Linked DNA regions of Homo sapiens. The protein of the gene in region 2 interacts with the protein of the main gene of each other region in a biochemical or structural test. Each region holds a gene or a part of one and is shown on either strand. Other genes may lie near its edges.

Region 1 (7,021 bases), on a different chromosome or scaffold from region 2:
AGGGCGACATGATGGCTGGGCAGAGGAAGCGCAGGAAGAGGGAGGCGCTGATGAGCCGCTCACTGATGTCCGGGCGGCCGCGACTGCTGCACTCCTGCCTCCACGAGGCAAACACCTCTTTCAACTCCCGTGGGAAGACACTGTGTAGGGACAGACAAAGGTGGGCTTGGCTGTCAGGCAGGGGCCCAGGACAGGAGTGCACAGAGCAGGAACCTGCATTCCAACCTTGGCTCTACCCCGCCAGCTGCGTGAGGTCAGCCCCGCTGTCTGAGCTCTGAGGACACAGCCATCTGGGGAGAGCAGTCAATACAGGGTGGCTGGAGCAAGTGCCCAGGCAGGAGGAGGAGCAGGGAGACCCAGGCTCCCATCGGGCAGTGGGTTCTCAGTGAAGGGCCGGGCAGGTGGGATGGGAGGAGGCATGAGGAGCTGGCTCTCCGTCCTAACCGGAATTAACTGCCAAGGGCCAGTGCTGAACCACCTCTCCAGCTTCTGGTCTGGGCCCTCCCCACCTCTCTGCCAGTGTCTACTTCATTTTTCAACCCAAACAGCAGGCATCTGGGTCTAGGGGGAAGTGAGGAAAACAGGAATAGACCACTATTCCTTGGGTTCCCATCACTGGCTTTGAGACTAATTTCCTTTGCTTGAATAATGTCACAGGAATCCAGGATTTCCTAAAAGCTCAGAAAGATCAAGAAGATGGGACTACCCCTGAACACGGTGGGACAACACAGCTCTCCATTCTCTACATGGGGAGGGAAAGGGAGGTAGTGACTGCCCCAGGGTGATGGAGCAAGCCGGCAGAGCTGGCCCTAGACAATGGGGCTCCTGGTTCCACTGGGCATCCTGGCCTGCCATGGTCAGGCCCACCTGGCCAACCCTTAAGTGGGTTTCCTATCTTTTTTCCCTAAAAGATGCATCTCCCAGCCTGGGGCAGGCCAGGCCCCAGTGGTCCGTGAACTCAGTCTACACTTGGCTCTGCCATGAGCTCAGGGTGATCTGACCAAGGCCCTAGCCCTCCTGGAAGGCTTGGGTTTTCTCTCCCCTAAACTGAGAGCAAGGCCTGCCCTGCCAAGCTCACAGAGCCATCGTAAGGCTAAAACCCCAAGGCTACAACAGGCTTGACCAACTTGAAATTTCTTCCCCCACAGGCCCAGCAGCCTGCTCAGCAGGCTCTCCTGCAATGCATGCTGGCTGACCCATCAAGGGCACACCTAGCGGGGAATGAAGGTGAGCCACCTTTAGCCGTGGCTCTCACAGTGCCTGGCACAGAACTGGACAGGGGGCAGGTGTTGAGTGGTGACATCTATCAATGGCCTTGTCCAGAATGGAGAGGTGCCTCTGATAAATGCCAGAAAGAGGAAATGGAAAATCACTGTCCACAAATATGTTTTCCCTGAGTCACATGCCCAGCCCCCCTGGAAGAGGGGGAGGGGGAAAGCACAGCCCAGCTGGGAATGGGAAGTGTGTTCCCAGAGTTCAAGGCCCTACAGTCGCTCTCCTCCACCGGCCCAGGGGTGTGGAAAGCTGCACATTTGTGGCCCATCTTGAGGTGCCCATTTGGCCCAGGCAAGCACCTTGTATAGCCCAGGGGCTAAGGCCCTGGGTGCCAACCCTCCTGGCCTGCCCATTCCCCCTGCCTTTTCTTGTCCTTGGGGAGCAGCAAACACTTCTCTGGCCTTCCTGTGTGCCCAGTCCTGAGGTGGTGGGCTCACCTGCCCCCAGGGTGCCCCAGCATTCACAGGAAATGTTTTAGGCACAGGCACAACCCTATCCTGATGGGATCAGGGCTGCGACAGAGGGTACCAGGTGTGGCCTCGGAGCAGGAAGGGCAGGAGTGTATGCAGGGGAAGGTGCAGGTGAGTGAAAGAGATGAACCTAACAAGGAGTGAGGTAAGGCCGGGGAGAGAGTGGTGTCAGAACAGGCTGTGGACGGAGGCTTGGGTGGGTGGGGGCTGTAAGCCCTGAGCTGGAGGGGGACACAGGTTAAACCTGGGCAGCTCCTCTGGGGTGAATATGAACCCACTGCTTGGGCTGACAGCAAGGCCCTCCCGCACAGTCCTGTGTGCCACCACAGAACGAGGCTATACTCGGCACCAGGCTGGCTGGCCATCACACACATATATCCCAGGAGCAAGCTGGTGGCCGTGAAGTCGGCCTTACCGCAAGTTTCTCCGGGACTGATTCCGGTCCTGCTGAGGGGCCTGTCTAAGCAGCCCACTGCTGCATGCCCTGCTGCTTTCTGGGGCTGGCAGAGTCTGCAGACCCCGTTCTACTTCAAAGTCTAGTCCTTTCTGTTTATTCTCTAGTCCCAGCAAGAGGCCTGCCTGGTGCTCAGGCCCCCAACGTGCCCCTGCTTGGCCCCATCACAAGGCTGTGACATGAGCACCTTAGCTCCCACGGACAGGTGAGGAGCCTCAGGTGAAGCCATCCGCCCACCCCAAGTGGGGGCCCACACAGGGCCTGCCAGTCTCACTCCCGCTGCAGCCCAAGCACCCACAATAGCCCCCGGCACATGAAGGGCGCTCCCTCATCACCAGAGACGGCAGACTGGCGTGTCCAGGTTCTTTCCATCACAAAACCACAGCAACATGCTGAACGCTGCCCCACCTGAGAGCTCAAAAGGGACTAGGCCAGGGGACTGGCAAGTCAGTACAACTCAGGGGCCAGGCAGCATCAGGCACACTGCGGGTGCCAGACACTGAAGGACAGGATGGGGAAGGCGACAGGGTGGGGAGACCTGGGCACCGCACTGACCAGTAGGAGTTGATGATCTTGCAGAAGGCCAGCTCGCAGCACATCTTGAGGTTGCCCTGGTGCTCTGGGAGGTCAGCGGCCGAGCACTTGCTGGGATCCACTTCGCAGTTCTCATCTGACTCATACAGCGCTTTGATGAACTCACCTATGGACAAGTGGGCAGGGAGTGGGGAGTGAGGACCTGGCGGGCCCTGCCCCACCCTCTGCCCTGCTGCTGGCCCACTCCCTACCTAGGGCGTCCTGCAGGTACTTCTGGCCCACTAGCTTGAGGTACTCCTCAATGGCCTTGGTGGCCAGTGTGTTCTCCCGGAAGATGAGGTGCTCGTTGTCCCCGCAGCGGTCCACCTCTGACATCATCAGGTCTGTCAGGAAGTCCTGGGGAGGCAGGAGGTGGAGAGAGCAGGACCTGAGCTGGCCTGGCATGGAGGGCCCTAGGATTCCAGACCTAGCCAGAGAAGTCCTGGCATTTTGAGGCTGTTCCATCACCAAGCTGCGGGGGTCCCGGAGAGGAACAGTGTGCCCACCTTTGGGGGCTGCTGGGGAGTGTGGGCAGGGCAGGGGCCCCCAGCCAGGGTAGGAGCCTAGAACTGGTGACAGTAGAGCCGGGTCTATGGATGGAGGCAGCCTGAATGAGAGCATGCCACGTGGAGCCACAAGCCCCCACCACCACAGAGAATGGACTCATTTCCATGTACAGCCCTGATCAGGCCTGGCCTGGTGACCACAGCAGGACTCGCCTCTCCCCGCACCATCAGTGCCAAAGAGGACAAATGAGGCTGCCCTGTCTCATGGTAAGAATGGCCATCAGTATCCACCTATGACTCTGGTGGGGGCTCCCACACCAGACACAGATGCCTTCTGTGCAGCCCCACTGCCCGGGGAGGTCGTGAGCCACCATGCTCAGGCAGGTGAGAGCAGGAAGTGATGTGCAACTGGCTGGAGAGGGAAGGTGGAGGCGCCACTGCCCACCTGGCAATCCAGGGTAGCAGCCCCAGGCCCATCAGGTCCCACACACAGTGTTGTGGGAAAACCCCAGCACAGGAGCCCGAACCCACACCTTCCCCCTACTCTAGCAACCATGCAGATACTAACACCCTCCCTCAGAAGCCCCCACCTCCTTGTGCTCACAACTAACCTGTGGCTTGGGGGAGGGGAAGAAAATAGGAAAAACTGTCATAGTTTCAAGGGAGGGTGACAGTCAGGGCAGGGGGCCACCTAGCACAGAGCCTGCAAGGTGCCCAGGAGGGGTGGACCCAGGCATCTGTGCTCAAGAAATTCCTCACTCCGACATGCACGACCTTGGGGTCCTTTAAAACAGAACTGAGATCTAGACACAGGAACCCAGGGTGCACAGCAGAGGCACAGAGGGACAGCAGGGGCAAAGGGGAAGCTGTCATTGGCTTCCTGGGGATCATGTGGCCTGAGGACCCCTTCCTGACCAGCAGGCGACCTCCAGGGTCTCATTCTCTGAATACACTAAAGCGGGGGTCAGAGGTGCATCTCCCCCGGGGCTCCTCCAGGGCTCCCGCTCAGGACTGCAGCCTTCCTGAACTCCCGCAATGAGAGCCAGGCCCCAGTGCTGGGATGAGAACTTCCTGAGAGCCAGGACCCAATAAGGGGGAAACCAATGCACACACAGCAGGAAAATGACTTGTCCAAGGCCACACAGCCACCTGGGGCCAGATCTGGTCCAAGTCCCTTGCTTCCCAGACTCCGTTACTCCTCTAGCCGTGGAGACGGAAGAGGGGCTAGTTCCCAAGTATTCCAGGGGTGGGGGCTTAGGTACCTGTCACCCCAGCAGCACAAGTTACTTTCTATGCTTCTATCTACTGCTCCCCAATCCCACTGAGGGCCTTTGGGGTTGGCTGCAGCCCTGACTTCACCTCCCTCCACGAGCACCTGGACATACCTATCATTTCAGGCTGCTTCAGGGAGGAATCCGCTTCCCAGGCCAGCCCCAGCCCAGCCCTGGGAACCAGGTACTGAAACATCAGACACAACTGCAGAAAATAATGCAGCCTCTGCAGCCCCCATCACTCCCTCTCTGGTGCCCATGGGTCCTTGATTCATTCCGTTTCCCAGCATACGTCCCCAGTGTTGACCAGCATGTTAAGGACGGGGCAGCCAGAGCTGGCCCAACGTGCAGCCTAGCCAGCCAAGTCTGAAGGCTGGGGGAGAAGGTGAGGGAGGAGGTAGCTGAGCACTACAGAGGAAAACTGCTCCCCATCGCGGGTCCATGGGGAGGAGGTCCCCGCCCCAGCCCTGCACTTGCAGCATACAGCAAGTGCAAGAGGGAGGGGGGCTGCAGAGGCTGCTGAGGCTTCCAGCCATGGCCTCCCCTTCCAGGGCCTCTAGGAACAGGTGAGAGGGTGAGGGACCTCCACGAGTCTTGTGCCCTGGACTCTGCCCTGGGGTATGGCTCCCAACTGTGCCTCCCCGACCCAGAGCTAAGGGCCTAGGACCTTGACACAGGGTGCCCCTCAGCCACCTGCCACTTGGCTCACAACACGCCACTGTCCAGAGGGCAGAGGCCCAGTCCTTAGCCCAGCACCAGGGTCCATCCACGCTGCAGAGGCCTCAAGTCCAGCCCCTTTTTCCCACCCTCTTTGGCCAGCTTCCTGAATGGCAGGTGGCAAATGTAAAGAGAGAAGGTCGCCTTCGAGGCCCACAGACCATGCTCTACTGCCTTCCTAGGGGCACCCTGGTCCAGGAGCCCATTTGTCCCCAAACCGGGTAGGTGGGGCTGAGGCACGGCTTGCATGGTGGGCTGCTGGGCCCATCTTCGGGAGCGGAAGGTGAAAGGGGTCATGGAGATGGACATTGAGCACCTCTGGCCCTGAACTAGGACTTGCCTGGGTGGGTCTCAGACGATTCCCGCTTCTGTGAGGCTCTGGGGTGGGGCTGGCTAACCCTCGAATAGTACAATTTTGACTGTGTCTACCTGTGTGACAATCTGTGTGTCTGGGTGAGAGTGTGGGGTGAGGTAGAGCTGTGAGGGAGGCTCATCTGTGCATCGTGCTGGGGAGGTCTGCCGAACTCCATACCCCACAGGGGACGTGTGTTTGGCTCACTGCGGCTGGTGGCGTTGTGGGACCTGTGTGCTGGGAGAGCCGTGGCCACCCAGCCTGTTCCCCTGGCGCCTCAGGGGGTCGGTCCTCTGCAGCAGTGGTGGAAGGCACCTCAACCCAAGCCCACTCCCTCACTACCAGCTGCAATCCCATCCACTGGCTCCACACAGGCCTCAGTGATCAGCTCCAGCCACAGAGCAGGAGTACAAAACCCCCAGCCCACGATAGAACTTTTGGGTTTAGGGAGCCCTTCTGGTAGTGACCGGTGCCTCCAAGGCCTCTGTTAGGCCTGAAATGTACGGATGTGAGGAAGGGCAGGTAACCCAGTGCTGCCGCCCAGCCTGTGTCAGGAGCCGAGGGGCCTGCACGCACCTTCACCTTGCCCGTGCTCTGCAGGATGTGCACCAGGGCAGATGCCATCTCCTCCTTGGTCTTGGCACTGAGGATGGGCTCGAGGGCTGCACACAGCCCCAGGTAGTGGTTGGTGATGTGCTCAGCGAACTCTTTGTACATCTCCATGGGCAGGATGGTGATGGTTTGGTAGCGCGCCTTGATGCGGATCATGGGTCCAGGGCCCTTGCCGCCCTTGGGGTTGGGCGTCACCACCGGGTACCACTTCTCCACGAACTGCCGCCCGGCCACCGAGGCAGCAGGTAGGCTCACCAGGCCCAGGTAACTGTTGCGCTCCTTCTTCTTCTTCTTGTCGGTCTCCCGGTACAGGTGGACAGTGACCGTGCGCAGAGGCGGCAAGTTGTGGAACTCGAAGTGCTCGCCCCAGAAAACATTGTCCGTCTTGAGCTTGCCCGTGGTGCGGGCATAGAGCACATCGTCCAGGCACAGCTCGCACAGGTACTTCTTCTTGGCTGGCAGGTCCTTGGCCTCGATCACCCACAGCTTCAGGATGTGCTCCACACGCCGGCTGTTGTCCTGTATGTGCACGGGGGTCCAGGGTGGTCAGCTGGGGGTGCCACGTGCAACCCCCAACCAGCCCAGAGCCTGAGAGAGTCCTCAGACCCAGGAGGAGCTCTGAAGGTGGAGGCGGCAGCGGGCGCCTAGGCCCTAAGTCAGGATGAGGCAGGGCATGATGGACAAGGGCTGGATCTCTGGTCGACCTCACAGAAGCTCACTCACCTTGGGCAAGCAACTTAACTGGAGCCTTGGGTTGCTTGTCTATGAAACGGCACTAAGGTAAAACCCCC
Region 2 (6,896 bases):
GTCATTCTCCATTGACAGGCATATTTTGTCCTAGCTTCCTGCTGCTATAAATGATACAATTAACAACCTTGGGGGCAGGGAGTGGTGGCTCATGCCTGTAATCCCGGCAATTTGGGAGGCCGAGGCGGGTGGATCATGAGACCAGCCTGGCTAAGATGGTGAAACCCCGTCTCTACTAAAAATACAAATACAAAAATTAACTGGGCATGGTGGTGGGCACCTGTAATCCCAGCTACTCGGGAGGCTGAGGCAGAGAATTGCTTGAACCCGGGAGGCGGAGGTTGCACTGAGCCGAGATCTTGCCACTGCACTCTAGCCTGGGCCACAGAGCAAGACTCCATCTCAGAAAAATAAAAAAAAAAAAATCCTTGCATATTATACATGTGCTTTATTTCTAGTGGATAGATTCTTACTCCTAGGATAGAGAAGTGTATGTGTTTGCTACAATAACAATTAATATTAGTAATTCCTGCAGGGTTTTATGTATTTTCATTTTTGATAACTCCTGCTAGGTTTCTTTCCAAGTAAGACAGTATTTATTTGAATGGTAATTTTTATGGGTATTTACTTGCCTTTCACAATTTCTCATTATAAAAATTTATATTGATAAGTGAGGTGTAATTAGTTATATACATTTATATTATTGAATTTTAAATGTTCTTCATTTTACAAGTACCAATTTTTCCAAGTACCCTAGTAGTCTACCACCTGAGTTTCATTAAAATTGCACAAAACAGAAAAATACATATTAGTTCTGAGATGCTATAGGGGTATAAGCAAGAAAACAAAACACAAACAGGCTGCCTTCTATGAAACTATCTTCCAAATATTTTAGATCAGAAGATGGACAGGTAGATGGATAGACAGAGATATGAAAAAAAACCTCCAGTATTTGTTTTGACTTGCCAGCCACCAAATCTGGTAGGGTCAGTTTTTCTGTAATGTTAAATATGCAGGACTGGTCAAGGTCAAAGAACATTTTCTGGGAACAATAGCCATTCTCTTCATTGTTTTTTTAATGACATGGAGAAGGAAAAAAAAAAAAGGAGAGAGAGAGAGATGTGACCTTACTAGGTCCACTTCAACAAATCCTTGTTTGATTTTAACATCTCTAAGTGTCCAGCAAGGCATCAAAGGCACACAGGCAGTTTACCTTACAGCCAGTTCCAAAGTGCCATTTACAATTCAGGAGAAATGACAGGCTTCAAAAGGGGCAGTTTAAGGAAGACAAGAGCAGTAGAGAGGGGGATAGAAGAAGTGATGGAGAAGGAGGAGAGAAAGGATAAAGGATTAGGTCTGTGAGCTAACAGAGGAAAACAGCTTAATTATGGAAGAAAAGACACATGCATAGGATAGGTCGAACAGGCAGAGTTGCTGTGGAAGCACATTCCAGGAAAATCTTAAGAGATTACTTTAATAATAAACCATGCATTCTTCAGCAAGCCATCACGGGATTAACTACCCCTTTCCTAGGCTGGGAGCACAGTCATTTGTTTTATTTTATTTTTTCCTTCTCTCTCACAGGCAGGTTTTCTGCAACGGACAATTGCCATTCAAAGACTATTGTTTTTCAAACATTGAACTGACTTTTCCTCCCCTTAATTTTCTAAACATAAATTTCAGTGGTGATAAGAAAAGACCATTATTTAGGCAGGGTAAATATCTGGGTGGGCTTTGGCGTGATTCTCCAGAGGGAAAGATGTTCATTTTAGACTTGTTGAAAAGTGAACAACTTAGATGAGACAGAGACAATGTTTCACGAGGGATAAAAAGAGTTAAATTTCTTTTCTTTTTTTTTCTTAATGTGAGCAGGACATTGAATTACTGCCAGAAGCAATATCGGTGCCCTAGAGATATAAAAATACAGTTCAAACCAGAATTCTCCACTGTCGACTCTTCAGATTTCTGTGCAAAATAAGAGGTGTCTATTTTAAGTTGTAAGTGTGAGCCCACTGCTCTTAAATGAACTGTTTTCATCAAAGTCTTCTCTTGAAACTACAACTCATAGCAGATGAAATCATTTTCTTCCTCTGGCTTCTTAGACAAATCCCTTCCATTTGGTGGGGTAGAGCAAACATAAGTTAGTATTTCTTGGTAAGAGTCTTTCAAAAAAAAAAAAAATAGAATTGAGTGAGCACTTCTTAGTCTAGAAAATATTACATATTGAGGTTAAAAGAGACACCCATGTCTTTCTAATTATCAAAGTCTCTATTTGCCTGAAGTCAGCAGCCCTTTTTCCAGCTACCTAGCCAATAGAAATGAAACTGGACTTCTAGATTTTAGAAACAAAGCCTTGTGTTCTAAAATGTACTAGAATTACATTTCTCTGCATAAATGTTATAAATAGAATACTATCCTAGGACTAAAATTTGTATACTTCCTGTCATTCACACAAAGTCATTTTTTAAAATAGCAAATTACCTCTGAGGAATATTGAAAACTGCCAGCATGGCCCTCCCTGCCTCCACACCCCTAGGTGTGTCAGGGGATGAGAAATAGTAGAGGCTGGGGAAGTAGAATTCTGGGCCAGCTGTGCTGCTCTGCACCCCTCAGTCTCCCCGAACAACGGTTGTTTCAAGCCTGACCTACTTGAGAGCAGACATTGCCACTCACATTGAGCTACCCCAAATTACACAGTGGCTTTGCAGTCGAGGCTAGGCACGGACCACAAAATATATCCTTGATGTCCCACGAGCCCTATTTGAACCCTCAGTTTCCAGAGGTAAAATGCAAATCCACTGTGTTGCTTACTCGATAAAATCAATAACCCCCTCCCATCCGAGATACAATTTAGCATTTTCACATTTACTACGTGCTGCCTCTGACTTTAAACAATTAAATTTTTTTCTTAAAAAAAGGGAAAAGAGACACGTCTTTCACAAGAGTAATTTCAGAATTCTCCAAAAAGCAACAGAGCTTCTGTGGATGTTTTACAATAATTCTTGATTTTAAAATATGGAGAAAATGAATTCTCAGCTTGTTAACACTCATTAGGATTTGCTGCGGAGTACCTTCTACCGCTCAGCACTCTACGTTAACATTTTTAAATATTTTATTTCTTGCAGTTCATGTTTTTCCTAGAGTTATAGGAAGTGCTATGGAAATTCATGCAGATAAAGTCATGTTATGTGTCTACATATAGGTGTATATACACTGTAAGGGAAGCCTGTATAGAATCTCTGATTGTATCAGAATTATAACTTATTTGATAGGCTACATAGACGTGAACATGTTTTGCTCATATCGATTTCAGAGAGAATATTATTTTTATATCCATATATATGATTATATTTCATAGGTAAATACAGTATGTTTCACATATGCACACATAGATTTCCCACTAACTTAAGCGCATTTGCATCTGCAATGAGGGAGACACTAATTTCTTCTAAGGGGAGCAAATCCAATCGCGCGATCAACTTTAGAAACTGCAGATCTGCGCAGGAACCGTTGTCCCTTGTCAGAAAAGTCAGGAGTAAAGGCAGTCCTTTGTTCAAAGGGCCCCAACGGGTTGGTTAGGATGACTCCGTGTGCCACATCACTCGCAGTGGCAATCCAGGGAACGGATCTGTGAAACGAAGCTCGGTGGATCCCACCCCTTTCCTCCAGAGCTTCCCTTTCCTGTCCTTATTTGCACCCGCCCCCCGCCCGCGTCGGTCTGGGGCTTTTGACTTCTCCCCGAACACATTTCCCCTCCCGTCGCTGGGTCCCTGCGATCGCCCCCAGCTGGTGGGGCTCGCGGAGCTCAGGGGAGCGGGGTCCTCTGCGCCGCTGCAGCGCGAGTTAATAAACAGTTAAGTTTGGAAGACTCTGCAGACACGTTGAGGGGGAGTTACCAAGCCCAGGCAGCAAAAACATCCTGGCACATTCCTGGGGAGTCCTCAGCTGCCAGCATCTGATTAGAACCATATCTCTCGCCGGGAGTGGCCGCGCGGCTCCGAAGCTCCCGGCCGGCGGCTATTTAAGCGAGGCCCGCCGCATCCGCTGCGCTGTAGCCTGGAGGCTCCGGGCGCGGGGAAGTCATGCTCGCTTCACGGAGGCAATAGCTAGCCGGTGAGTAGCTTCGAAACCCTTCTTCCCTCTGGCTCCATTTTTTTTTTAAAGATCTCCTTCTCTCCTTTGCTCCCCCTCTCTCACCCCCCCGCCCCCCGCTACCCTTCTTTGAGTACAGACCTTGGGCTGTGGGGAATCTTAGAAATGAGACCCTGTGCTTGGGGAAACCAGCAGTTTTGTGGCCTGACATCTGAGGAATGCTTCCGCGGAATGTATTTACCTTTCGAATCCGACTCCAGATGCCCAGCTTGTGACATTTAACAAACGCCTCCTTTTGTGTCGTGTGTGTGTGTGTGTGTGTGTGTGTGTGTGTGTGTGTGTGTGTGTGTGTGTAAAAGGTCTGCGGGCAGCCCTCCTAGGACACTGAGGTGGCTGCTGACCGCCTAATTAACTCCTCGAAGGGTGTTTATTTTTGCTGTGTGACAAAGGCTGGGGACCTGGCTTGTGCCCATAAGGAGCTTTTTCCTGGTGACTGACAACATATGGCATTAAAATGTGAACTTTTGTCTTACACCGGCATTCCTAAGGAAGTATCTACCCAAGGGACTTAAGAAACTTGTTTTATATCCCCCGGCGCAGGGAGCATGGTTTATATGGTGCTTGCCTGCCTGTTGTAAGCTGGTTAAAAAGATTAAGTAAGAATTCTAAAAAAGGGGGGAAAAATGAATGGGTTAAAACCGTGGAGCCTCAGTCAACATAGCGGTTTTCATAGCATAGAGCTGACTCTGTTATTTGTTTCTGCTGTCTTTCCCTCTTGACTTAATTCTGAGCCTGGAATTCTGGTCCGCAGACAGTTTCAGCAGGGAGCTGAGTCCAAAGGGAAATTCAACTGGATTAAAAACACTTAAGGAATCTGGGTGTTATCTCCACCCCAACCACCCCCCACCTTTTCCCCTTTCTTTTTAGTTTTTGTTTGGAAGGAAGAGAGCCGCTCTGTAAACCGAGAAGAGCAGAAACAAGCTTCCAGACACATGGAAAGACTTAAAAATTATGGAGGGGCGACTTCACGAATAGTAAATGTTGCTATTGCTCTATAAAGTGACTTCATGAAAAAATTTCTGGCCTTAGTCAGGCAAAGCAGGGGCATGGGGGAGAAGGAGGTAAGATATAACTAATGCAAACAGAAGTAATGGGAGTGGAAAGCAGGCATCTACAAAAAATGCCTTTGAGATGTCTGATAAGCCTCTTGGAATGGCTTTGATGAGATGTATACTTGATTGTCCTTACAGTCTTGAGGTTGGCTTCTCACACAAAAGCACCTACTGGCTGTTGGGGAGGAGGGAGCTTGCAGCTACCAAATGGCTTGTCACCATGCTTCTTACCCCAGCAGCCAGACTTTGGGAGGCTACTTTTCTCTGAGCCAGGTGCCCCGCCCACTCCAGGTTCTGTGTCTCCCCTCTTGGAAGGGAGATGGCCCTCAGTGACACTGTAAGAAAGTTTATTGCCTTGAGAATTCGGGAGTATTTGAGTACAATGGGAAAGTCTTCTAGAGAAAGCATGAAGAAGACCTAGTGGTCTTTGCCAATGTGGATTTCTGGGACAGACCACTTCTTCCAAATCCTTAGTCAGTTTCCTCCTAAGGCCAACTAAATTCTTTTTCCTGTTGTTGGTGAATAACTTCCCCCTTCTTTTCCCACTCCCAGCTGGAAGGATCCCTTCTCATCCAAATGACTGACCTAGAAACCAGTCATTTTTCAGCTATGCCCTCCTATGCTTTAATGTATAACCAGAATAAGTAGATGGTAGAGGAATGTCTTCCAACTTTGAGCCCATACACGTATGTATTTGCCATTCTGGGGATCTTTGATCTTGATGGTTGATCTTTACCTGAGGATGTAAGTGAGGGAAGAAAGCACTTGTTACAAACCTTGTCTAATTTGTGAAGGGCAAACTCCAGAGTTTGTGTTTCTGCTAAAGACTTTTATAGTTTCAGATTAAACTGGAAGTCCAAATTCCTGTGCATTAGGCCTGTTTGTTGTCTTTCTCCAAAGGTTGAATGGATTTCACTGGCCTTGTTTGGGTTGAAGGGTACGGCTTTTAAGGCACTTGTTGGCATGAAGGTAGTACAGGGACCTCTGGCAGCTGCTGACCAGCTGTTTGGGGATGATATTTACTGGCCTGCTCAACCAGGCCTCGATTATCTGAAGGTTAAGGGAGCAGGAAGATATCTTCCTTGCTGAGTGCTCCTGGCCAAGCAGGAGGCTTTGCTGTGACATAGGCTCTTATGCTGCTTCATTTCTAACTCTACCCTCATATGTCCATAAACCTAAGTTTGCTACCACTGATATTTCATCTGGATAATTTTGAAGGCTCTGCGTGTTTCTCTTCCTCATTCTTTTGACCTGAGGATTTAATTATTGCTCTTCTTAAAGACAAAGCCAAGATGCTGAAATGCTTGGGAAAGCTGCTGAGAGTGAGCCCTCCTGGGGTTTGAAGTTGTCCTAATGCTCATCAGAACATACCTCCCCAGCTGGAAAGATTCGAAAGCTTACTGGCCAGGAAGGTTTAGGTAACTAACCAAACACATAAGGTTTTTTACCCTTTAGACAGAACCAGAATGGGAACCAGATTGGCAATATGAAACACCTGAGTAACAGGATGTGGTATTTTAAAATTCTCCCTGGCACTGCTATGTAATTCCAAAGTTGAAGCTGTGCCGCTGAATTGCACAAAGGTTGGCCAAAATCATATTTAGGTGAAACAGATTTTTGTTTTGTTTTGTTTTGTTTTGTTTGAGACAGAGTCTCCCTCTGTTGCCCATGCTGGAGTACACTGGCATGAACTTGACCCACTGCAGCCTCTGCCTCCTGGGTTCAAGAGATTCTGTGACCTCAGTCTCCTGA
Region 3 (7,506 bases), on a different chromosome or scaffold from region 2:
GTGGGATGGGAGGGGGTAGATGGGGAACTGGGCTGCCAGGGTTGGGGGTTGATGAGGCTGGGAGCCTGGATTCCTGCTTCTAGAGGAAGGGGTTGGGGGATGAAATTCTTAGATCCCAAGTGCGAAGAGGATGCTGGTGGCCCAGACTCCTCGGTTCTGGTGGCGGAGGGTGTTAGAGGTCCCAGTTCCTGGGTTGTGGGGGCTGGGGACGGGTGGGCCAACGTCCTGACCTCCTGTGCCTCCTGATGCCTCCGGGTTGAACTCTCACATTGGTCCATGCGCTCCTGGTGCAAGAACCGGCAGCCTTCAGGCACCAGCAGGGCCTCACTCACAAATTCACCAGCTGGGGAAGCACGGGACACCAGGGTGAGATCCTCCTATAGCCACCAACCCCACCCTCCTCAGAATCCAGATATTTTATCCTCAGAGGCTTCTCTGCCCCACTTAGGACACAAGCACCCAGCCCCTTAATGTAGGCCTGAGAGAGGGGCTCAGAACCTTGCCCCTCAGAAACTCCCACCTCAGTTCCCCTCTCCCCGCCTGGGACTCACGCAGGCAGCGGAAGGGCACAACCTGGTGGTGGGGGTGGGCGCAGCTGCCGCTCCGGGAACCCCCGCACCAGCGCTCCATGGGGATGGCCTGCGTAGCCTGCTCCACACGTGCAATCTGCAGCTCCGGGTACATCTGGGGGGATCAGATGGGGGCAATCAGCCCACTGCCCCGCCCCTGCCAGCCACCCCTCTCCAGTAGTCAGGTCCCTTTTCTCTTTCTTTCTCCCTCTTTCTTTCTTTCTTTGAGACGGAGATTTGCTCTTGTCGCCCAGGCTGGAGTGGAATGGTACAATCTCGGCTCACTGCAACCTCCTCCTCCCAGGTTCAAGCGATTCTCCTGTCTCAGCCTCCTGAGTAGCTGGGATTACAGGCACGCACCACCATGCCAGGCTAATTTTTGTATTTTTAGTAGAGACGGAGTTTCGCCGTGTTGGCCAGGCTGGTCTCGAACTTCTGACCTCAGGTGATCCGCCTGCCTCGGCCTCCCCAAGTGCTGCGATTACAGGCGTGAGCCACCGCGCCCGGCCAGGTCCGTTTTCAAGGCTCTAGTATTCATGAGGACATCGCTTCCCTAGGCCCTGCTTCTCCCTAGCACCAGCCTTAGATATCCAAGCTCCTTGTGCTCATTGGCCACGCCCACTAGCAGTTTTCCCTTAAAAGTCCCGTCATCTTTAAGCCCTATCTCTTTTCCTGTGCTGTTTCTTTCTGAAGGTCCCTCTAAGCCCACCTCTCTGGTCACCCCTCCCCGCAGTCAGATTCGTCTCCCCAAAGGTCTCACCCTCCTTTAGGCCCCGCCTTTTCCTCTATTCCGCCTCTCCAAAACTCTCCCTTCCCGTTATAAATTTGTCTTTTCATGGCCACGCCCCCCCAGCTCTCCGCGCTCTCATTGGGCTCCACCCCTTTCCCCATCTTGCTGGTCCTTAAGGTCTCTTTCTGTCTTAGCCCCGCCTATCCTTTCGCCACTCCCCCCTACACCTCTACTCTTTACAAAGACCACCAGATTCCTAAATTCCACTTCCTCTCTGGCTATCTCGCGGCTCTCCCCTTTTCCTGACTTAGTATCTCAAAACAGGTCCCCTGCCCCTAGCATAGTTGCGCCTCTTTATTGGCCACGCCCCCCAGCCTCCACGCCTTAGATCGCGCAGCACCCTGGACCACGCCTTTTTCAAGTCTAGCTTTCTATGGGCGGCCCCGCCTCTCCCGTTCGGCCCCGCCCACCTGTCTGCAGTACTCCAGCACGCGCTGCGGGTCCCGGAGACAGCGTCGAGAGCGCTGTGGGTCTGGTTCCCAGCGGCCGGTGCGCAGGTCCCGGTGAAGGGTTAGGCGCCCGCATAGTCCAGCCACCTGGGCCGACCCCGGGGCCTGGATGGAAGTGGAAAGGACAGTGAGGGCTCGGGGGGCGTTGGCATGAGGGTCCCCTGGTTCTTTGCTCCCTAGGACCGAGACCCCCAGCACCAGCCCCCTCCCCCAAGCACCGCACACCGCCTCCATGGAGGCACCGTTCCCTGGGAAACAGCTCCCGTAGGGCGGGGGCGCCCCAGCGCTCCCGTTGCTATGGCGACCTGGGTCCCCCGGGATTCTTTCTGCCTTGTTGCCGCGGAGACAGACTCCGCCCCCACCCCAGCGCAGCCGCTCTGGAGCCCGAAGGGGTTAAACCTGAATCGCGGAGGAGGAGGCCAGAACCCAGGAGTTCTGGCCCCTCCTCCCTCCATCCCTTGCTCAGGCTCCCGTTGCAGGATGCAAAGCTGACAAGGCCTGGCTTCAGGGGCCTACAGTCCTGGACACCAGGTCCTTGAGGACTGGAGAGCTACATCTGGTTGGGGTGGGTGGTGACTGAAGGACTGGACTCCTGGGTCCTGGGAGGCTGCAAGGGCCTCCATATGGGTCCAGAGAATACAAGGGGTCTGGATTATTGGATCTAAATGCCTCGCTGCTTGGTGGGTCCTATGTCCAGGCGGGAGGGGGTTGGGGCCGAGTCACCTGGGTCTGGAGAGGGGGCTGGACTTCTGGGACCAGGGGCTCTGAATAGACCAGTTCCTATGCTCGAGATGGGAGGGGGCTGGGACGTCGCATGATGGGGGAGCTGGGGCCTGGAACCCTGGGTTCATAAATGTGATTGGGGGCGCCTGGGGGCTGACCACCTGGCTGGAAAGACCGCGCTTTCTGCCCTGGACATGTCCGCGCCGGCGTCCAGAGACCCGGTCCCGCCCCTTCCCCCATCCCCCAGGACCCGGCCCGGCCTCACCTCGGCCGCGCCGGGGCTCCCACCGGCCAGGCTCCCGATGGCGGGCTGCGCGCGCAGAAGCAGCAGCAATAGTGGCAGCAGCAGCGGCAGCGGCGGCTGGCCCGGGCGGCGACTTAGACCGCGAGCAGCGGGGCTGGCGGGCCCCATGTCCCGGCCCTTGCGCCCTCACGTCCCCTGCACTCCCGCCCGGCCCGGCCCCAGCGGTGACAGGAGCTCCCAGCGCCACCGCCGCCACCTCCTCCTCCCGCCGCCCCCGGGCTGCGCCGGCGCCGCCAGCCCCGCCCCGCGCCGGCCCCGCCTTCCTGGTCAGGACAATAGCGTGGCGGCTTCGCGCAGAGTGGAGCAGCTCGGGAACCCCGGGCGGGAGCCTGCGCCAGGCCCCCGCCCCTCGAGATTCCAGGCGTCCCGCCCCATGAAGGGCCCAGCCAGGAGTCCGGCTATGGGCTCCGCCCGTTGTGGATTTTGAGTCCTCCCGCAGGACTCTCACCCTCTTTAGACCCAGACACTCACAGTTTTGTCCTTTTCCAAGGATGCAAGCATCAGAGACCCCCATCCCCTAGTACATTCCTCTGTTGAGGGCTCAGGAATACAGGCCTCCAAAATGTCCCCAGTCAAGAAGGCAGCAGTTGAGACCTAGTCCCTTCCTCTTTCAGATCCAGAAGTCTGGGCACCTTCTCTCTCAGGACCAGAGACCAAGCCCCCAGCCCATTCTCCTTCAGACCCAGGAGTTCACTCTTCTTGCTCTGCTTCCCAAGGGTCCCAGGGGCCTGGACCTTTAACTCCTAGCTCAAGGATCCATGAACCAAAGCCCCCAGGACCTTTCTTTAAGGATCATCCAAGCAGGCACCAGCACCATGCCCACTGTGGATGCAGCACCTCAGGATTAGGGTCTGGATCTCCACGCTTGCTGTAAGGACCAGGGGATTGCCATTTTCCTACCCATAGTCTCCCCTTCCCTGCTCCACTTCAGGGCTCACTTGTTTGTCTCCTCTAATGAGAGTTAGAATTCAGTCTTCCCCAGGACCCCTGGGGCAGCCCTGTCACTTGTGTGCAACTGTGTGGACATCTATGCGTGTGTCTGTGCATACATGCCTATGTGTGTGTCTTTTCTGTTTGCAACTCATGTGTGTGTGTGCGTGTGTGTGTGTGTGTGTGTGTGTGTGAAGATGTATATTAAAAGAGCCCATGGCTGGGCACAGTGGCTCATGCCTGTAATCCCAGCACATTGGGAGGCCTAGGTGGGCGGATCACTTGAGGTCAGGAGTTTGAGACCAGCCTGGCCAACATGGTGAAACCCTGTCTACAAACAAATACAAAAATTAGCTGGGTGTGGTGGCATGCACCTGTAGTCCCAGCTACTTGGGAGGCTGAGGTGGAAGGATGGCTTGAGCCCAGGATGCAGAGGTAGCAGTGGGCTGAGATCATGCCACTGCACTCCAATGTGGGCCATAGAGCCAGATCTTGTCTCAAGAAAAAAAAAAAAAGAGCCTAGAGTGCTTTGCAGGTAGCAAGAGGCTGAGAGGTGGCTCACAGTTTTACTCCTACAGCCACCTCATAGGCTAGGGTAGAGGAGGGACCTTGGGACAGGTCTAAGGGACCCCTTCCTTGGTGGAGAGTGATAATGCCAGTAGACTCCCTAAGACACACTTGCCTCTTTGACTTTTTTTTATTATTAAACATAAATATTTTTATCCCAATATTTTGCCCCAACAGTGGTAATTCTCACTGTATCCCCACTCCTTGGGTCCAAGTCTTTCTGAGTCTTTAAGGAAAGTAAAATCAAGATGGTGGCCATCTTGGGTTCCTAGGGAGTATATGGCCATCTTGGCTGCATTTCCATTGGCCGAGCAAAGTTCCCCTCAGGGAGAGCCAGGGTGGGGCCTGGTATGCTCTTCATCTTCATCTATCCTATGCTACCTTTCCTCTCAATGCAGATGGTCATCTTGAAATATCTTCTTTCAGTGGCTAGAAACAACTTCCATCCCGGCCCCAAACTCCCAACACCCACTGCCCTGTCCCCATCTCTCCTCAAAGGGCCTACCTGCCATCTTGAATCTCTTTTACACCGGGGAATAGGTGGGCATATTGGGTGGCCATGTTGCTCCCACTTGGGGCATCTCCTTTGGCTGAGCTGACTGTATACAAATGCTCCTGACAAATGTAATGATCTTTCCCTCCCCTTGTGTTCAGTTTTGGAGGAGTAAGGTCGCCAACTTGTCCTGGCTCCTCAGAAATCAGAACAATCCATTATGGCAAGTTGGAGATCCCAGGACTCTTCCATTGGAAAGATGTCACACGTGAGTCTGGAGACGCGGGTGGCTAGGTGTGGGGAAGGCAGCATATGGGAAGGGGGGAGTCCCGGGGGCCAGATCTGGGGGCCCAAAGGATGTGGGTTTGATGTAGCTGGTGAAAGCTCGAGGGTGGGGTGTGGTGAGATAGCCTGCCCTGGCTCTGTAAAGTCTGCAGGGGGGGACCATGCCCAGGTGTGGGTTGAAGTCATAGAAGGTAGGGGTCCCTGGGGGCCCAAGGGGGGAGGGTGGTGGCAGGAAGAGACCTCCTCCAGGGGCTTCGCCAAGGCTCAGGCTCACACTGACTCCTCGGACCTTGTAGTAACCGTTGGTTGGGTCCTGAGGGGACAAATGGGACTCAGTAAAGTCTGTGAGCGTGCAGGGGGGATGAGGGTCACTGATGGAGAGACACACTGAAATAGACCAGACCTTGAGAGAGACAAAAAGAGACAGGAGTGGGCAGAGACACAGAGACACACATGGACTGGGAGAGAGAGAAAGTGAGACAGAGGAACAGTGATAAGAGGCAAATGGATAGGACATAGGCAGAGAAAGGTAGAGACGGAGGGATATAGGCCTGCTGAGGGGTGTCGGTGTGGAAGGTGCAGAGGGAACAGGAGAGAGACACTCACCTGCCCAACAGCCTCTAGGCTTTGATTCAGTGTCACACCCTGTGTTGCTGCTACAAGGCATGTCACTAGGATAGAACTGGACCCTGTCCTCACAGAATCCCACACCAAAGGAAAAATGACAGATCATGAGACAGTACCCAGAGGGGTCAGGGCTGTGCCTGGGAAAGGCATAGGCAATGACAGGGGCTGTGATGGTAGAGCCCTCAGCATAGTGGGTGGGATAAGGAAGCCCAGATCAGAGTGGTCATGGCTGTGATGGGTGGAACACAGGCAAAATGATCGAGCTGTCATGACGGAAGCATGGGCTTCCTAGAACAAGAAATGTCTGAGCTGAGACTGGAGGACTAAAGGAAGGAATTAGGTAGACATGGGAAGGAAGGTAGGAGTGTTTCAGGCCAAGAGAATGGCATGTCGGCTGGGCACAGTGGCTCACGCCTGTAATCCCAGCACTTTGGGAGGCTGGGGCGAGCGGATCACTTGAGGTCAGGAGTTCCAGATCAGCCTGGCCAACATGGTGAAACTCCATCTCTACTAAAAATACAAGAAAAATTAGCCAGCTATTAGGGAGCCTGAGGCAGGAGAATGGCTTGAACCCAGGAGGCAGAGGTTGCAGTGAGCTGAGATTGCACCACTGCACTCCAGCCTGGGCAACAGAATGAGACTCCGTCTCAAAAAAAAAAAAAAAAAAAAGAAGAGAGAGAATGGCATGTGCTAGGTACGCAGGAGAGAGAGAGAGAGAGAAGTGCTCTGGCCTGGGGATGGCCTGGAGTCAATGTGGCTGTCCTGAGGTAGGACCCCAGAGGAAGAACCAGTCTGGGGAGATGTGGGGCCAGTGTAGGACCTGGTGGCTGAAAGGGGGCTTGACCGTGATGAGGAGAGCACAGGCAGGGTGAGCCCTGGTCTGGGGCTCCAGATGGAGGCTAGGGCTGGGACAGATGTGTGGGAAGAGTCTGCAGACAGGCAAACTGAGGCTGGGAGCTGAGTGAGATGGCCCAGGGGGCAGGAGGAGTGGGGTGGGGAGCTGAGTCCCAACTCTGAGGACAACAGAAGGAAAAAGGAGGGGACAGGCGTGGGAGAGAGACGGAAACACAATGAAGGGAGCCCCGCCTCTCCCAACAGTGAAGGGAGCCCCACCCCTCTCAACACTCACCTTGGTCTCCAGAGTCCCTTCCTCCTCCAGAACCAGATCACTGTGGTCAGTGTGCACAATGGGGCCCTGGGGTAGGGAACTTAGTGAGAGGGAATAGTCAGAGGATCCCCCCGCCCCAATGCCAGACCCCAAGGACCTTCAGCCAGCCAGTGGAGGCCAGGCAGGAGGGAGTAAGAGCACCCAAGAGCTGGGGACTGCACTCAGGACAATAAAAGGGCTGTAAGAAGCCAGCACAGTGGCTCATGCATGTAATCCCAGCACTTTGGGAGGCCGCAGCAGGAGTATCACTTGAGGCCAGAAGTTTGAGACCAGCCTGGCTAACATGCCGAAACTCTGTCTCTACTAAAAATGCAAAAAATAGGCAGGCATGGTGGCAGGCACCTGTAATTTCAGCTACTCAGGAGGCTAAGGAACGAGAATCACTTGAACTGGGAGGTGGAGGGTGCAGTGAGTCTGGATTGCACCACTGCATTCCAGCTTGGACGACAGAGCAAGACTCTATCTCAAAAACAACAACAACAACAACAACAACAACAAAAACGGGCTGTGGGGACATACTGGGCCTAGGGAATAATTGGGTCAGGGGCATGGACTTGGGTGACATTTGGGTGTGGGGTCACTGTTAAGACTAGAGCCCTTG
Region 4 (7,021 bases), on a different chromosome or scaffold from region 2:
CTCCGGGTCCCCACTGCTGGGTGCGTGGCGGATGCTGGGCCTGCTGGACTTGGCACCGAGGCTGTCTGTTGGGCACAGCTCCCACAGTTCATCTCCGAGGTGGGGGTGACCCAGGCCTGGGACTGGGGGATGGGTGGAGGCAAGGCTGTGGGCCCAAAGCCCTGGTCCCCAGGGCCGCCTGCCATGGGCCTCGGTGTTGTGACAGCTCCTTGTGTCCTGGGTGGTGCTGTGGGGAGCTATGGAGTTGGGGAGGCTCTGCCTGGCCTGGGCTGTGGGGGGAGTTCCCACTCCGCCCTCCCTGGCTGTGCCACTTGGGGTCTGTGACTCAGCCTCTCTGTGCCCTGAGTGCCTCCCTGGTTTTGGGAGGGTCCAGGCAGTTCACCTACTGCACTCATAGCCATGGCCTAGCAGGGACACTTGAGCCTGTGTGTCCTGAACCGGGGGAGGGGCACAGAGAGATCCCAGGACTCGGCACCACCCAGGGGACAGGCTGGTGGAGAGCCCCTGGCTCTGGGGTCAGGGGTTGGGAGGCCACAGACCCCCAAGGCTGAGGGCCCTGACCTGGGGCGTGCACAGGGGGCTCTGAGGGCACAGGATGGCTCTGCACCGCCTGTCCTGGGCCAGCTACCCCTGCCAGCTTCCTGCTCCGCCTTGGGAGAATGGGGTGCATTCGGGACCACGCCACGTCTAGGGCAGCTGGCTGTGGCCTCTGGGAGTCTGGAGGGTTCTCTGCATCCTGTGTGGCCATGCTGGCTCCCAGGGCGCTGCCTCTGAGTGGATTCCTCCCCGGGGCGGGTCTGTGGGGGCAGCACACAGGTTAGCCAGGCCTCACAGGGAATCCCAAGGTGGGGGCACAGTGCCGGCAGGGGCGCCCCTGGCAGCTGCCGTGAGTTTCAGCGGAGGCTGCTACAGAGGCGCGGGGACCCCGGGTTGTGGGTACGCCCCCAATGCCTGGCCAGCCTCCAGCACCCTCCCCCATCTGGCTGGGGTGGGGACGGCAGGGCTCTGCCTGGGACCTGGGTAGCTGATCCCTGGAGCCCCAGGCAGACCCCACCCTTCCCTCTGTGCTGTTTGGGTCCTGCTCCCTTTCTCCTGGCCCAGCCAGGCTTGGGTCTGCACCCTGCCACTGGGGGCAGGGGAGGACTTGTTACACCCTGTTGGGCTGAAGAGGGCGGAGTGAGTAGGGCCTCTGGGTCCTGGCTGGACATCTGTGAGGGGGCAGGGGGCAGGGACATCCCAGGCAGCCTGGGGTCTTCGTGAGGCCCTGGCTGGGTGGGCCATGCGGGCTTGGGCCACTCTGGATGGTGGGAGGGGGCAGGGCCCTCTTCCGGTGGAGCCAGGCGGGTGCTGTACTGGGGTGCTGGGTGGCCGAGTCTCCCTCCAGTGAGTCAGAGGGTGCTGGGTGGCCGAGTCTCCCTCCGGTGAGTCAGAGGGTGCTGGGTGACTGAGTGTCTCCCTCAGGTGAGTCAGAGGGTGCTGGGGTTGGGTGTGGCAGGGGAGAAGCTGCCGGCCAGGCCACCTGGGGCCGTGTGTCAGGGACTGAGGTGGGGACCCTGCCAGGGGCTCTGCTGTGGTCAGGTCCATTAGAGACAAGGGCTCACTGTGGGCCCTGGCCCCCTGGCGGCAGCTAGTGGTGGCCTCGGTGTCCGTGGGGCCCGCCTCACCCTGGGTTGCTCCAGCCTTTCAGGTGTGACAGCCTCTCACTGTGGCGGCCTCAGCCTGGCATGGGGTCATGGTCTTACCTGGGAAGGCTCCTGTGTGGGGGCAGCAGACGTGGAGGGGTCTGAGAAGTGACCTTCTCTGCTCTTTGGGGGCGTCTACCTCATGGCCTGGCCCTGGGTGGCCTGGGGAGGCAGCTGCAGGACCCCAGAGGGCTAGGTAGGGGTCCCTGCTCCCACCTGGGCTGGCCCTGCCTGCTGTCCACTCTGCCCTGAGGCTTGGGGCCTCTTCCCAGCAAGTGGGTGGGCCAGGGCTTGGGTGAGAGTGTGGGTTTGCCACTTTGCCGGGGGCCTCCTGCTACCTACTGCTTCGGAGTCTGGCTGAGTCAAGGTGCCCCGGGGTCAGGGGACCTGGAGCGGCCAGTCGGGGTGGCTCTGTAGCTCGCAGTGGGACTAGCAGCCACAAGGCCGCTTCCTGCCAGGTGTGCGGCCAGGCCAAGCCCCGTCTCCGGGCTCCTATTTCTCCACTGGGCCCAAGTCCCGGGCGTGGAAAATGCTGCTGGGCAGGGCAGGGTGCCACGAGGCGGCGTCCAGATCCTACCCAGCCTGCTGCCTGGGCCCTCAGAGGTCACAGTGTGAGTGTCGACCACAGCCCTGCCTGCCTTGCTCCTTGGCCTGGGGACCTGCCCCTGCCCAGCCATCCCCTCTGTGCCGTGTGGGTTGCCACCCTGCCCTCTGAACTCTGAGCTCGGGTCACCCGGCCTCCTCCTGGTTCGTGTCCCCTGACCCTCTGCGGCCTGCCTGGGTGCCCTCTGCCCCGTTCCCAAGCCTATCTGACCTGGGGGTGGACTGGTGAGGCACCTGGCCAGCTTGCTCTCCTGGGGGCCCTGCCGGCTCCGCATCCCCTGCTGCCCCTCTAGGTCCTGAGGTGCAGGGAGGTTTGGTGAGTGGAGGTCTTTGTCTCCCTGGCTAGGTGGACAGGACAGGAGGGTGGTGGGCGGCCTCTGGGGACCTGTGGGCCCTCCCAGCCCACCTACGTCCGTCCGTCGGGTCTGAGAGTCCTTGTAGGTGGACTGTGAGCCTGACTAGGGGTGCAGGGCAGGGGTCAGGCAAAGCCCTGCCCTCACAGAGCCTGACCCTGGGCAGGCAGGCACAGGGCCTGGGACCTGAGGCTGCTCCTGAGACGCCAGGAGGGTGGAGTAGGGCCATAGGGCATGGCTGGCATGATGGAGAGGAGGCTGCTGGGGGATTTGGGCTCCTGGTTGGGAATGACAGGTCTGAGTGCAGGGGTGGGTGCAGGTGGCCTGATGCCCTGGCTGTTGAGGGGTGGGCGGCTGGTCTGGAGCTGGCTGGGAGGTGGAGCGGTGGACCTGAGGTCTGGGGCAAGGGACAGGGAATAGCCTGGGGAGCCTTGGGGCCCGGTAGGTGCAGCTGCTGCTGCTGAGGAGGCTGGGGCCTGGCCCTGAGGAGTCCCAGTGTGGGGGAAGCCCTGGGGGGGGGGGGCTCCAAGCCCCAGGAACAGATGAGGTGGGGGTGGTTGGAGACAGCGTCTGGGGCCACCACATACATGAACCGAGGGCAGCTGGGCACGGGGGCTTTCCCAAGGAGGCCTCACCCTAGCTGTCCTCCTACCTGGGGGCTGGGGACCAACGCTGCAGGGGACTGAGAGCCTTTGGCTGAGCTGCCCCTGTGAGGATGTCCACAGCCACTGTCCCCATGCTGGGGGGGTGGGGGCCCAGGATGTGACGGAGAGGAAGGACGGTTCCCGAGAGGAGAGTGCGTTAGCAGGGGTGTCCGCAGAGTGACTGGCCCCATGCTGGGGGGGTGGGGGCCCAGGATGTGACGGAGAGGAAGGACGGTTCCCAAGAGGAGAATGCGCTAGCAGGGGTGTCCACAGAGTGACATTGTGTGGGCAGGAGGAGCGCCTGCTCTCCAGGCCTCACCTCTAGAACCGCAGGGTTGGGCCCCCCAGGTGGGGCCTCACGGCAGCATATGCCCACAGGGTGGTGAAGGAGGAGATCTTTGATGACAATGCCAAGCTTCCCTGCTTCAACGGCCGCGTGGTCTCCTGGGTGAGCCCCTGTGTCTTGGCCCCGAAGGCTCGCCTGGGGAGCATTCCAGGGTGGGGCTCTTCCTGGGGGAGGCGGTGGGTGTGGGGAGGCCCTGGCAGGCTGGGTGCGGATAGGGCAGCTTGCTGGCCCCCTGTTCCCTGGGTGCCCTGAGGAGGCGTCCTGAAGGCGGGTGGGCTCCCCTGAGCATGCCTGCTCCCTCCACAGCTGGTCCTGGCTGAGGGTGCTCACTCGGATGCGGGGTCCCAGGGCACGGACAGCCACACAGACCTGCCCCCGCCTCTTGAGCGGACAGGCGGCATCGGGGACTCCCGGCCCCCCTCCTTCCAGTAAGGACACCGTGGGCGCTGGGCCCTGCTACCCCAAGCCTGTCATGGGGGTTGCTGGCCAACAGGGGAGGGAGGCCTGCCTGGGCCAGTAGGCGGGCGTGGCACCTGCTGGGGCTGGGGTCCCACAGGCGAGGGGAGGCTGGGCTGGGCGGCATCTGAGGGGCTGGGGCCACGGCCTCCCCACCCACCCTGCTCTTGTTGCACAGCCCAAATGTGGCCAGCAGCCGTGACGGGATGGACAACGAGACAGGCACGGAGTCCATGGTCAGTCACCGGCGGGAGCGTGCCCGACGCCGGAACCGCGAGGAGGGTACAGTGGTCATGTCTGCCCAGCTGTGGACCCCCAGCCTCCCTGGGACCCCCATGAGCCATGTTCCTACTACAGCAGTTCCTGTCCCCCAGCCAGTGGCGGTGCTTGGGTGGAGGCACAGGCCCAGCGAGCCTACAGTTGAGCTGCCAGCTCCCAGACCCACAGGCATGCAGCACTGCCCAGGCAGCCCCAAACCCATGACCTCTGGGAGACCCTGCAGTCAGTTCCCAACCTGCTGCCCCCACAGCCGCCCGGACCAATGGGCACCCAAGGGGAGACCGACGGCGGGATGTGGGGCTGCCCCCAGACAGCGCGTCCACCGCCCTCAGCAGCGAGCTTGAGTCCAGCAGCTTTGTGGACTCGGACGAGGATGGCAGCACGAGCAGGTGTGTGGGAGTGTCTGTGGGCGTGTATGCCTGTGTGCCCACTTGCAAATGTCTGTACATGATGTGCATGTGTCTGCATGAGGTGTTTTCACATTGCACGTGTGTGCGTGTGTGTGCATGTGTGTGCCTGCAAATGTCTGTGTACATGATGCACGTGTGCTTGTGCACGTGTTCCACATGAGGTGTTTTCACTGTGCACGTGTGTGCGCGCCTGTGTGTGTGCCCGCGTGCAAACGTGTACATGATGCACGTGTCTGCTTGTGCATGTGTGTCTGTGTGAGGCGTTTTCACATTGCGGATGTGTCTGTGCATGTACCTGTGTGCAAACGTTTATGTACATGATGCGCATGTCTGTGTGTGCATGTATGTGTGTGTGAGGTGCGTTTTCACAGTGTGCACGTGAGCGTTTTCACAATGCACGCGTGTGCGCAGGTGTGTGCATGTGTGCGTGTGCGTGTGTGCAGGTGTGCGTGTGCAGATGTGCGTGTGTGCAGGTGTGCTTGTACAGGTGTATGTGAAGGTGTGCGTGCAGGTGTGCATGTGCAGGCGTGCGTGTGCAGGTGTGTGCAGGTGTGCCTGTGTGCAGGGGTGCGTGTGTGCAGGTGTGCATGTGTGTGCAGGGGTGCGTGTGTGCAGGGGTGCATTGTGCAGGGGTGCGTGTGCAGGTGAGTATGCAGGTGTGCATGTGTGCCTGTGCAGGTGTGTAGTGTGCAGGGGTGCGTGTGTGCAGGTGTGCATGCGTGTGCAGGTGTGCGTGTGTTCATGCGTGCGTGTGCAGGGGTGTGCATGTGTGCCTGTGCGCAGGGGTGCATGTGTGCAGGGTTGCGTGTGTGCAGGTGTGTGTGCAGGTGTGTGCATGTGTGCCTTGTGCAGGGGTGCGTGTGTGCAGGTGTGCATGTGTGTGCAGGTGTGCATGTGTGCAGGTGTGTCAGTAGTGGATCTGGCTACATGTGTCTGTGCCCAGTTTGCCTGTCTCTGGGATTTTCGTGTGTGCTCATATGCATATCACGTGTGCAGGGCCTGGGGCGTGGACGTCAGGCACTGAGCCTGCTTTGGAACAAGCCTGGCCTAGACCCCCGATTCCCACTCAGTATTGGGGGAGCGGGTTCCCACCCCCCTACCCATGTCTCCAGCTCCTCTGAGCTCTGACAGTCTGTTCCCAGGCTCAGCAGCTCCACGGAGCAGAGCACCTCATCCAGACTCATCCGGAAGCACAAACGCCGGCGGAGGAAGCAGCGCCTTCGGCAGGCGGACCGGGTAGGCAGCCGGGTGGAGCAGGGCGGGGCTGGGGAGGCGAAGTCAGTGTCGGGCAGCCCCGTGCCTTTTACACACGCCCCCTCTCCTCCATAGGCCTCCTCCTTCAGCAGCATAACCGACTCCACCATGTCCCTCAACATCGTCACTGTCACGCTCAACATGGGTGAGGCCTCGGGGCGAGGGTTGGGGGCAGGGGCAGGGGCTTGGCCGCGGCTCATGGCTCTTCCTGCAGAAAGACATCACTTTCTGGGCATCAGCATCGTGGGGCAGAGCAACGACCGTGGAGACGGCGGCATCTACATTGGCTCCATCATGAAGGGCGGGGCTGTGGCCGCTGACGGCCGCATCGAGCCCGGCGACATGTTGCTGCAGGTGTGTCTGTGGGGGCTGCGGGGTGACATGTAGCTGCGGGTGGGTCCGTGGGGACTTTGGGGTGACGTGCGGCTGCGGGTGGGTCTGTAGGGGCTGCTGGGGGACATGCGGCTGCGGGTGGGTCTGCGGGGGCTGCTGGGGGACATGCGGCTGTGGGTGGGTCTGCGGGGGCGGTGGACTGAGCTGCACATCCTGCCTGCACCACCCTAATCCCCACCCCTGCAGGTGAATGACGTGAACTTTGAGAACATGAGCAATGACGATGCCGTGCGGGTGCTGCGGGAGATCGTTTCCCAGACGGGGTGAGGGCTGGGGGCGCTGGAGCGGGAGGGGCCAGGCAGGGAGGTGGGACCATGGGGGCCTTGCTGTGTGACCACCGTTCCTGCAGGCCCATCAGCCTCACTGTGGCCAAGTGCTGGGACCCAACGCCCCGAAGCTACTTCACCGTCCCACGGGGTGAGTGGCCCTCGGGGCACACGGGGCGGGATGGGGAGGGGGCGCCTACCTAGCCTGAAGGCCTCTCTCCTCTGTGCCCTGCACCCTGCCCTCCCACCCTGTCCATCTGTCCGCCTGTCATCGCCACGTGGCGGCCACCCAGCTGACCCGGTGCGGCCCATCGACCCCGCCGCCTGGCTGTCCC

The links.
Region 1: the proteins of DAB2 (region 2) and DAB2IP form a complex in vitro, tested with the Homo sapiens proteins (one study listed by BioGRID).
Region 3: the proteins of DAB2 (region 2) and APLP1 form a complex in vitro, tested with the Homo sapiens proteins (one study listed by BioGRID).
Region 4: the proteins of DAB2 (region 2) and DVL1 form a complex in vitro, tested with the Homo sapiens proteins (one study listed by BioGRID).

What each region holds. Positions count from the first base shown.
Region 1 is NC_000009.12:121,759,613-121,766,633, reverse strand, and holds part of DAB2IP (disabled homolog 2-interacting protein), read right to left. Parts: intron 6,750-7,021; coding exon 6,195-6,749; intron 3,130-6,194; coding exon 2,985-3,129; intron 2,900-2,984; coding exon 2,755-2,899; intron 141-2,754; coding exon 1-140. UniProt on the Homo sapiens protein: Functions as a scaffold protein implicated in the regulation of a large spectrum of both general and specialized signaling pathways.
Region 2 is NC_000005.10:39,421,961-39,428,856, reverse strand, and holds the start of DAB2 (disabled homolog 2), read left to right. Parts: upstream 1-3,876; 5' UTR 3,877-4,053; intron 4,054-6,896. UniProt on the Homo sapiens protein: Adapter protein that functions as a clathrin-associated sorting protein (CLASP) required for clathrin-mediated endocytosis of selected cargo proteins.
Region 3 is NC_000019.10:35,864,074-35,871,579, reverse strand, and holds the start of APLP1 (amyloid beta precursor like protein 1 isoform 1 precursor), read right to left. Parts: upstream 3,007-7,506; 5' UTR 2,944-3,006; coding exon 2,797-2,943; intron 2,489-2,796; exon of another isoform or gene 2,223-2,488; intron 1,914-2,222; coding exon 1,770-1,913; intron 685-1,769; coding exon 552-684; intron 344-551; coding exon 231-343; intron 1-230. Other genes in the region: KIRREL2 (kin of IRRE-like protein 2 isoform c precursor), read right to left, coding at 5,088-5,423, 6,867-6,932. UniProt on the Homo sapiens protein: May play a role in postsynaptic function. The C-terminal gamma-secretase processed fragment, ALID1, activates transcription activation through APBB1 (Fe65) binding. Couples to JIP signal transduction through C-terminal binding.
Region 4 is NC_000001.11:1,339,398-1,346,418, reverse strand, and holds part of DVL1 (segment polarity protein dishevelled homolog DVL-1), read left to right. Parts: intron 1-3,660; coding exon 3,661-3,730; intron 3,731-3,934; coding exon 3,935-4,056; intron 4,057-4,262; coding exon 4,263-4,366; intron 4,367-4,613; coding exon 4,614-4,752; intron 4,753-5,915; coding exon 5,916-6,009; intron 6,010-6,102; coding exon 6,103-6,172; intron 6,173-6,240; exon of another isoform or gene 6,241-6,241; coding exon 6,242-6,381; intron 6,382-6,606; coding exon 6,607-6,683; intron 6,684-6,710; exon of another isoform or gene 6,711-6,769; coding exon 6,770-6,837; intron 6,838-6,979; coding exon 6,980-7,021. UniProt on the Homo sapiens protein: Participates in Wnt signaling by binding to the cytoplasmic C-terminus of frizzled family members and transducing the Wnt signal to down-stream effectors. Plays a role both in canonical and non-canonical Wnt signaling.